Linked DNA regions of Homo sapiens: region 2 is linked to region 1. Evidence: fine-mapped expression QTL. Tissue or cell type: T cells. Region 1 holds a variant in brackets; the other region holds the start of a gene. All regions are shown on one strand. Distances are between the middles of the regions.

What was found. PIP is the estimated chance that this variant, and not a neighbour inherited with it, causes the effect.
Region 2: SDCCAG8 starts here. The variant in region 1 is the best candidate, but not a certain one, in a credible set for the expression of SDCCAG8 in T cells (TOPMed, PIP 0.56).

The regions. Positions count from the first base shown.
Region 1 is chr1:243,286,391-243,290,652 of GRCh38, reverse strand. SDCCAG8 (SHH signaling and ciliogenesis regulator SDCCAG8) reads right to left here. Exons shown (of 18, transcript NM_006642.5): 5 at 4,256-4,262. Among named protein-coding and RNA genes, the nearest start is that of SDCCAG8, 32 kb to the right of the region's middle. The variant C/T (reference allele first, on the strand shown) is at 1,942.
Region 2 is chr1:243,254,232-243,258,493 of GRCh38, reverse strand. It overlaps SDCCAG8 (SHH signaling and ciliogenesis regulator SDCCAG8), which reads right to left and starts at 2,453. Exons shown (of 18, transcript NM_006642.5): 1 at 2,254-2,453. The coding sequence starts at 2,320. CEP170 (centrosomal protein 170) reads left to right here and starts at 3,213. Exons shown (of 20, transcript NM_014812.3): 1 at 3,213-3,454.

The DNA of each region.
Region 1 (4,262 bases):
GGGGGGTCTCAGAAAATTCAGCATTACTAGACGTCAAAACATAAGGTGATGAATGTCAGAAGATGAAGCTAAAGAATCAAGTAAGGGACTTGAGAGTATACCACACCATGGAATGAGTCTGCACTTGATTCTCTCGGTAGAGTCAAATCCCCTAAGATATGATTGCATTTAAAGTTGTTTTTGAGATCAATGAAGGAGGGTGGTACTAATTTTCTATGGAGAAATTGGAGGGAGCATGTAGACCACAGATCACTAACTTATGATATAAAATATTATCATTCTTTGGAAAGAATTGCTAGTCTAACGGACATTTTGTTCTTTCACAGATAGTTTTAAAAAACTTGAATGCTACTTAACCAAGATGTTTTTAAAAACCTAAGTATGTTAAATCCTTGAAGATCATTCAAAACCTTTGATTTCTTAATTGGGTGGCAGGGGATCGGGGGGCGGGAGCGGTGGTAAGACAGGGGATGAAAACAAACGTGAAAAATATTGGCCGAGAAATTTTCTCCTTAAGAAAAAACTCCTGGATCTTTAAAGAAGGACACATGACAAAATGTTGAATAAATAACATGTTTTCGTATTATTTTGATTTTGTGAACTCTAGAGAAAAGCTTTCCATGAGGAAATATTTTATGAGAAGGCAAAGTGATGAAAAATCAGGACAGGAATGAAATATACTTTGAATGGCTTGCTTCTTTAACTTCTAGGTCATAAACTAGACCAAAAGTTGAAAGTCTTACAGGCTACCATCAAAGTCCAGGGCTACAAGCAGGAGACAATAAAAAGGAGATTCTTCTCTTTTCTGCCAGGGAAAACTTCTATCCTCTGCAAACAAAGATGGTTTGGTTCAATGTCGACAAGCTCTTCCTAACTTATGCAGAAAGGCGGTATAATTTAAGGTTCTACGGGGTGTATTTAGAGAATTAGATAGTCCTGGGTTTGAATCCTTGCTTTGCCATTATCTAGCTCTGTGACATTAGGCCAATTACTTAGGTTACTTAACAGCTGTGTACCTTAATTTACTCCTCTGAAAACAGAGATAATAACACCTGCCTTGTGTGGGTACTGCAAATCTGAAGTAATATAACGTAAATAGTTTGACACAGTGCCTCGCACATTATAACCATGTAGTCATCAATAAATGTTAGTTATTACTATATGAGATGGTTAATACTGAGTGTCAACTTAACTGGATTGAAGGATGCAAAGGATTGATCCTGGGTGTGTCTGTGAGGATGTTGCTAAAAGAGATTAACATTTGAGTCAGTGGGCTGGGGAAGGCAGACCCACCCTTAATCTGGGTGGGCACCATCTAATCAGCTGCCAGCGAATATAAAGCAGGCAGAAAAACATGAAAAGGTTAGACTGGCTTAGCCTCCCAGCCTACATCTTTCTCCTGTGCTAGATGCTTCCTGTTCTTGTACCTCAGACAGCGGGTTCTTCAGCTTTGGGACTCAGACTGGCTTCCTTGCTCCTCAGCTTGCAGATGGCCTGTTGTGGGACCTTGTGATTGTGTCAGTTAATAAGTTAATACTACTTAATAAACCCCCTTCATATATATATATTATATCATATTAGTTCTGTCCTTTGAGAGAACCTAATACACCATATAAATGTTTCAATTATCTTTTTTTTTTTTTTTTGAGATGGAGTCTTGCTCTGTCGCCCAGGCCAGAGTGCAGTGGCGCAGTCTCAGCTCACTGCAAGCTCTGCCTCCTGGGTTCACACCATTCTCCTGCCTCAGCCTCCCAAGTAGCTGGGACTACAGGTGCCCACCACCACGCCCGGCTAATTTTTTGTATTTTTAGTAGAGTTGGGTTTCACCATGTTAGCCAGGATGGTCTCTATTTCCTGACCTCGTGATCCACCCACCTTGGTCTCCCAAAGTGTTGGGATTACAGGCGTGAGCCACTGCGCCTGGCCACCTCAATTATCTTT[C/T]TTAAAAGGCATTATGAAACACTGAAAATCTATATTGAAATCAGCAAACTTCAATATAGCAAGGGAAGATTTAGCACCAACATTTTAATTGACTCATTACAAAAACCCCTTCCCCCCAAAAGAAGATATTTCTTGATTTTTTATATTTAAGATATCCTAAACATTTTTATTCATGTTACAACTTGTAACACAGCACCATGCATGTATTATTGAAATGTCTGGTTTTTTGTTTGTCTTGTTTTTATTGAGGCAAGGTCTCACTCTGTTGCCCAGGCTGGAGTGCAGTGGCGTGATCAGGGCTTACTGCAGCCTTGACCTCCTGGGATCCTCTGACCTCAGTCTCCAAAGTAGTTGGGACCACAGGTGTACATCAGCATGCTCGGCTAATTTTTTTTTTATTTTTAGAGAGATGGGGTCTCACTATGTTGCCCAGGCTTGTCTGGAACTCTTGGGCTCAAGTGATCCATCCGTTCGTGTGATCATCCTTCCAAACTGCTGAAATTACATGCGTAAGACACTGTATCTGGCCTTGAAATATTTCAATTCACTTACACAGGTAAAACGTGGGGGTAACAATTCAACAACAACAAATAACAGAAGATTAACATTAAAATAGATATCAAGGTCATCTGGCATATCTGCAGTAATCATTTCAATACCTGCATTATATTTAGCTCACATGAATGTTTAAAAAACAACAAAACCTCTCTAAAACCTTATCCTTTCTATGATTCTGACTGTAGTTTTGTTTAGCACATTTTCTTTGCTCATGCTGCAAGGCATGTGTGCTCTGACCATCATTTCCTTCCCCTTTTGCATTACTCATTTCTCTTGCCCTCTGATTCACTTGTCTGCCTAATTTCCTTTCTCACTTCACTTCCCCTTCTTCCACTTCTTTGGCATTACATAAATACTGAGGACTATGAATAATTGAATCACTGCTTGCTAAGTGACCACGTGTTTGGAAGAAAAGCAAATGAATATTTTTAAAATAAGCTACTTCTAAGTATTTTCTATATGGTGATATCTTCCTCAAATTGACATTAAAATCATAAGCAACTAAGATGGAGTTTTTACCACTAATAATTATACAAATCTTCAGGAAAAAGTTATACAGTGAGGAGAAAAGAACTGATCACAAACTTAAATGCAATTGCAGAAAATTAAACTGAAATACTAATTAGCCCACTTCATTTATCAGAGTTAATACACTCCTATACTTCTCAATAGCAAACCCTAACATATACAACTCCAGGATTATAAACCAACTATCAATTCAAGTTAAAAAAAAAAAAAACTTCAAAAACGAAAATTAGAGGATATCCCAATGAAACATCAAGACTTTCATGTTTTCTTAACAGCTGATTTACTAATGACGACAAAGTCAAAACCACCAAAGTAAACTGCAAAGTGAAGCTGGAATAGGCAAGTATGAAAACTTCCACATGGAAAGTTGAATTTGTCCCAAAAAGCAGAACAAGCTGTGACTATATCTTATAGCAAAACAGTTACAAAAAGTTTAAGACAAAAGTACTCTGATAAGTCATAAGATTTAAGCACTATTTAAATGTCACCACAATAATTCTCTGTCACAGAATTATAGAGATAATCTGACCCAACGTTCTTCAAACTCTGGGCCACTGACATTAGAATCACTTAGGCAACTTGATGAAAGTTTAGATTCCTAGAAGCCAACCAGACCAAGTGAATCAGACTCACAGGGGATGGAGTCCAGGAATTTGCACTGAAAACTCCTGGTATAGGTTAATCTTCTCAAATTACCAATAAAGAAATAAAGGACATACGTGATTAAGCTATGTAAAACCTTCTAAAATTACTTGCTAAACACCAGCCTTCTTAGGGAAATGGGAAGACTAACATTTTGATTCTTGGATCCTAAGGCCAACATTTTTTCTGCTACATCATGCAGCTAATTAGACTTATTAGATTTCAGACCTCAAGGAAAATTTAGAGAAATCCAACAGAAATCTAAGTTAAAGTTCTGAACGGTTTCTAGACTTAGCAAAGTCCTTCCTGTATAACACACTTCCTGCTTTCAGACCGGCTCTTTCCATATGGTAAGGCAGAAACGGTATGCTCAGAGAGGAAACTGTAGCAAAATATCACAAGATCGTTTCATCTGAGGATTCATTCCACCACAGTGAAGTTTGATATTTGAGGTCTCAAACAAATACCAACATAGTACTTTGGCCACACTTCAGGGAGAAAATCTAAGCAGCGAAGAAGGCGAGGAGAGAGGGCAGAAGGGAATATTCACACTAAAATAAAATTTATGATTTAAAATAATGCTCACGGATGCA
Region 2 (4,262 bases), 32 kb after region 1:
GGCAGAGGCTGCAGTGAGCCGAGATGGCACCACTGCATTTCAGCCTGGATGACAGAGTGAGACTCCATCTCTAAATAAATAAATTATACTACTCAAAAATAGCAATTTATATTTGTGAAGAACTTCTGACTGTACTTAAGTTCAGAGTTAATTCTGTTTTGTTTCCTTCCAGAAGCTGTTATATAAGCTAACATACAAAAATAAAAGTGCTACTAAATAAATGATATGTCCTGAAAAACCCATAAACATTTCAGGTTACATTTCCTGATTCACTGTTAAAATTATGAATACGTTTTTTTTTAAGTTGTTTAACTTTTTCTATCCTTCGTATTTGCTCTTGGTGAAATGTTTCCACTACCTTATATTGTTATCACACTAAATTTAAATTTTATTTCAAACTAATTTTAAAATGTATTATCCTTAAATGAAAACCCTTCATTCTGTAATTATTGAAAGCAGTACCACTAGTATTAAACATATTACTATAACATTAATTTAAAATGAACCCCTTTACTGCGTCAAAATGCCTAATGTTAAACAGCCTCCGACAATTATATAAAGACTTAAAATAAGGTCAAAGGAAGAGAAGCATCAGGAAAAACTTTCAATGAAAACAAAAAATTTTTGCCAATCTTAAAAATTACAATTACTCATATCATTGTGCACAGTATTTTTCTTGCTTCCAAATGAAAAGTTAGAAGTGCTTATTTTGTATCTAACAGCTCTTGAAACATCAGTAGGTTGAGGAAGGTGTTCATTAAAACCGATTTTTTTACTCCTGCAGTTTGAATACTGAGAATGTCGACAGTTTGTTAACACAATTGACAGATGTAACAATACATAGTAACCCTTATAAAATCTAGAGTCATGAGAAGATAAACTTTCTAATATTGAAAAACCTTCACTTTGCTTTAAGTAACAAGTATAAATAACAATTAACATTTAATGAGTGCTTGTCTAGTAAGCACTGATCTTTACCCTTACTTTCTATCATAGTAATCTATAATTATTTTTTTTTTTTGTCTTTCTCCCCAACTAATCCAGAAGCTCCATGGGGATAGGAACTTTGTCTTGTTCCTTACTGCATGCCTAGCACCTAGTATGCTTAACACATAGTAGGAGGCACTGACACATAGTAGGCATATTATGCAGAACAACACATGCTTCATAACTTAGTATTCTCAATGTCGCAAACAGTCATGACCTAGAGGCTTATGAAAATGCAACAGAATAGAAAGCAGAGTTTATTACATTTAGTAGAATAAAAATTCTTCAGTGAAACTTATAGTTTATATGTACACATATGTCCCATATAAAATTTATTTCTTACTATAGGTAAACATTTTAAGAAGTCTTAAAATCACTGCTTTATGGGGATTATTTCATTTGCTCCCCACAATAACCCTATGGACAATTCCATAACTTCCATTATAACAGAATCGAAATTTCTAGATGTTATATATGCTGTCCAAGTTGACAGCGCCATCTAAAAGTACAGACATTAAGTCCAACAGAGCTTAAAGGAAAATAAATACAGACATTATTTGTACAGATACTTGCTCATATGGTAATGTGGTAAGAAAATCTAAATTAATAAGGTTTTGATAATAGTAATTATGGCTTGATTAGTAAATACAAACATAGGCTTTGAAGGCAAGCCTGATAATACCTGGCTCTGCAACTAACCAGCTGTGTGGGCTCTGGCCTGTAATTCAACCTCTCTGAGCTTCGCTTTCCCCATGTGTAAAATATTCACACGATTGGTGTAAGCTGCAGATGATTTACTGTATGTAAATAGCCTAAATCAATTAAAAGGGGGCTCTTGTGATTAAAATAATTATTAGTGTTTCCCCCCACTGATCCCATAAATCACATTCAATCCACTGTGCCATAATTTAAATGTGTAAAAACTGTGAATCAGACTTTTATTGGATTAAATAGCAACGTATGGGAACTGAACAAAAATGGCATAGAGCTATCCAAGAGTTTCTGCTGTCGCCGGTTGAGAAAGATGCCAAGTTAAGATCAAGGAGTTGATTGAGGTAACTACGGGAATCTGAGGAAACATCGTTGCTTAACTGTAAAAACTAAATCAAACTATTTCATCCTCCTCAAGACCACAGCAACATCCATCTTGCTCCTCTGTAGCGTGGACGGGGCAGAACCCAGGTGTTAGGAAACGCACCTGGTCTGCTCCCGCCCACTAGGCCCTGGGCACCTCGGGGCTAGGGACAGAGGTTTGGAGCAACTCACCCCGGAGACTCCGTTGATACTGCCCCAGAATCTCCTCCAGGGTAGAGTTCTCCGGGGACTTCGCCATGCACGCACTCTAGGCCCAGAGCTGGGAGTTACGTGGGGAAATGTCCAGCTTTCTCCCTTCCGAGAACAACAGGCCTGTGGCCGGGGAGCGCCCGCCTGCTTCCTGCCGCGGCTGTCACAGGGGAGCCTAGAATCCCGCACAGAGCTCTTGGGGGCTCTTCCCACCCACTGGCCCTCGCTTTGCACGTCGGGAGTTGTAGTCCTCACGTTCAGAACCTGCAAGCTCGACAATCCTCAGGGCCTTCCAGTTACACTACAATTCCCAGAAACCACTGCGCTCCAGGCGCTAGCTTGGACGGTTTGGCTGCCAGAGCCTGCTGCCAAGAGACAGGCTTGCAGGCCCCGCCCTTTTCCTCCAGCCCAGCCTGGTTTAGTCCCGCCTCCATCCCACTCTTCAGCTGCCTGGACCACCCAAATGACAGAAAGGGCTCACTGAAGGCCTTGACGCTTCGAAATTTGCTAATATGCAGCAGTTGATCCCCAGGCTACTCAAGGACGCAGATAGTAAACTCTGAACCCTGCTTCAGTTGCGAGATTTTTTAAAACGGTCGAATAAATCTTCAAGAAATAGAAGCTCTAAATCTTCCAAACAGCCTAGATTGTAAAGGCGGCCGACACTACAACTCCTAGCATGCCCAGCAACCGGACCTTCACTTGGAGTTGGCGCTCTGCCCGCTGGGAACTGTAGTCCTTGTTGGTTGCGGTCCCACCTAACGCCGAGGTCCTCTTCATTGTTCAAGCTGGTCTTTCGGGGCACGCCTGCGCAGTGGGCAAGCTGGAAAAGCGTGTGGGTGAGACCCTCGCACAACCCCTTTTCATTGTCTGTGTGTGGCGCCTGCGCAGTAAGGGATCGTTGGAACTGGGCAGGAGGGGATAGGGTCCGGCTCCTCGCCCTTTCCCGAGGCGCCTGCGCACTAGGCAGTCGGTCTTTGCCGTTACCGCTATGTGTGGGGCGTGTGTGGAATAACGTTATTGCCCAGCGGAGCTGAGGGCCCCGGAGCTCGACCGCAGCGGCAGCGACGACAACAGCGGCGACGACGACGACGACGAGGTGGGGGGAGGACGGCGTGCGAGAGACTCACGGGACGCGACGCGCCCCGCCTCCCCCGTCCGGTCCCTCTCTCCACGGTAAGGGGTAAGTGATGCGATCGGCTGCTCGGTGTAGGCGCCGCAGCCGCAGCCACCGCCGCGGCTGCTTTCCACATCCTGCTCCTCGGGTTTGCGGCGAGGACTCGGGCGCCGCCCGCCGCGGGGCGGGGGTGCGGGGCTGGACCGCGAAGGGGGCGCTTCCCGGGTGCTCCGCGCGGCGCCGCCACCCCCACCCTCTGCCCGCCTGGGACCCGGGGCTTGACGGGACCACCCTTCCCATCCCCCACCCGCCGCCCCCCGGAGCTCCAGTCCTGCGGCCCCCCGGCTTTCCCGAGCCCCTTGCTGCCGCCTCCGCATCCCCTAAGTGCATTGAATCATTTTCAGCTTTCGACTGGCTTTGTGCAGCCCTCCCCCCTCCGCCGTAGCAGTTTGCGAGGGGTGCGGGCGGAGCATTGGAGGGAATGGCTGCGCTGCCGCTGGGGAAGGGATTTTTCCCCCATTGGAGCAGCTCCCCGGGCCAATCCCTTTTGTGTGATTGGTTTTGGGGTGTGAGGCGGTTGGCGAGGTCAGGCGAGCAACCTTTTGGACGCGTTGGGAGGGCGTGGAAGACGCGGTGTCATGCACCCTGCCTGGCGACTGCACCCCGTGGAGGCTCTGGCTCTGTAGTAAACCCGGGGGAGGAGAGAGTGGCTTCCTGTCGGCTTCATTGTCCTAGGATTCAGATGTAGGGTTTTGGTACGTTTCGCTTCCATTTTATGCAAGCGATGAAAAAATAACATTTGCAGCTGCCTAACACAGGGCGGGAAGACGTGGGATTTGTATACTAAGTCACAGAATCTCTGTTCGGTGGTGTT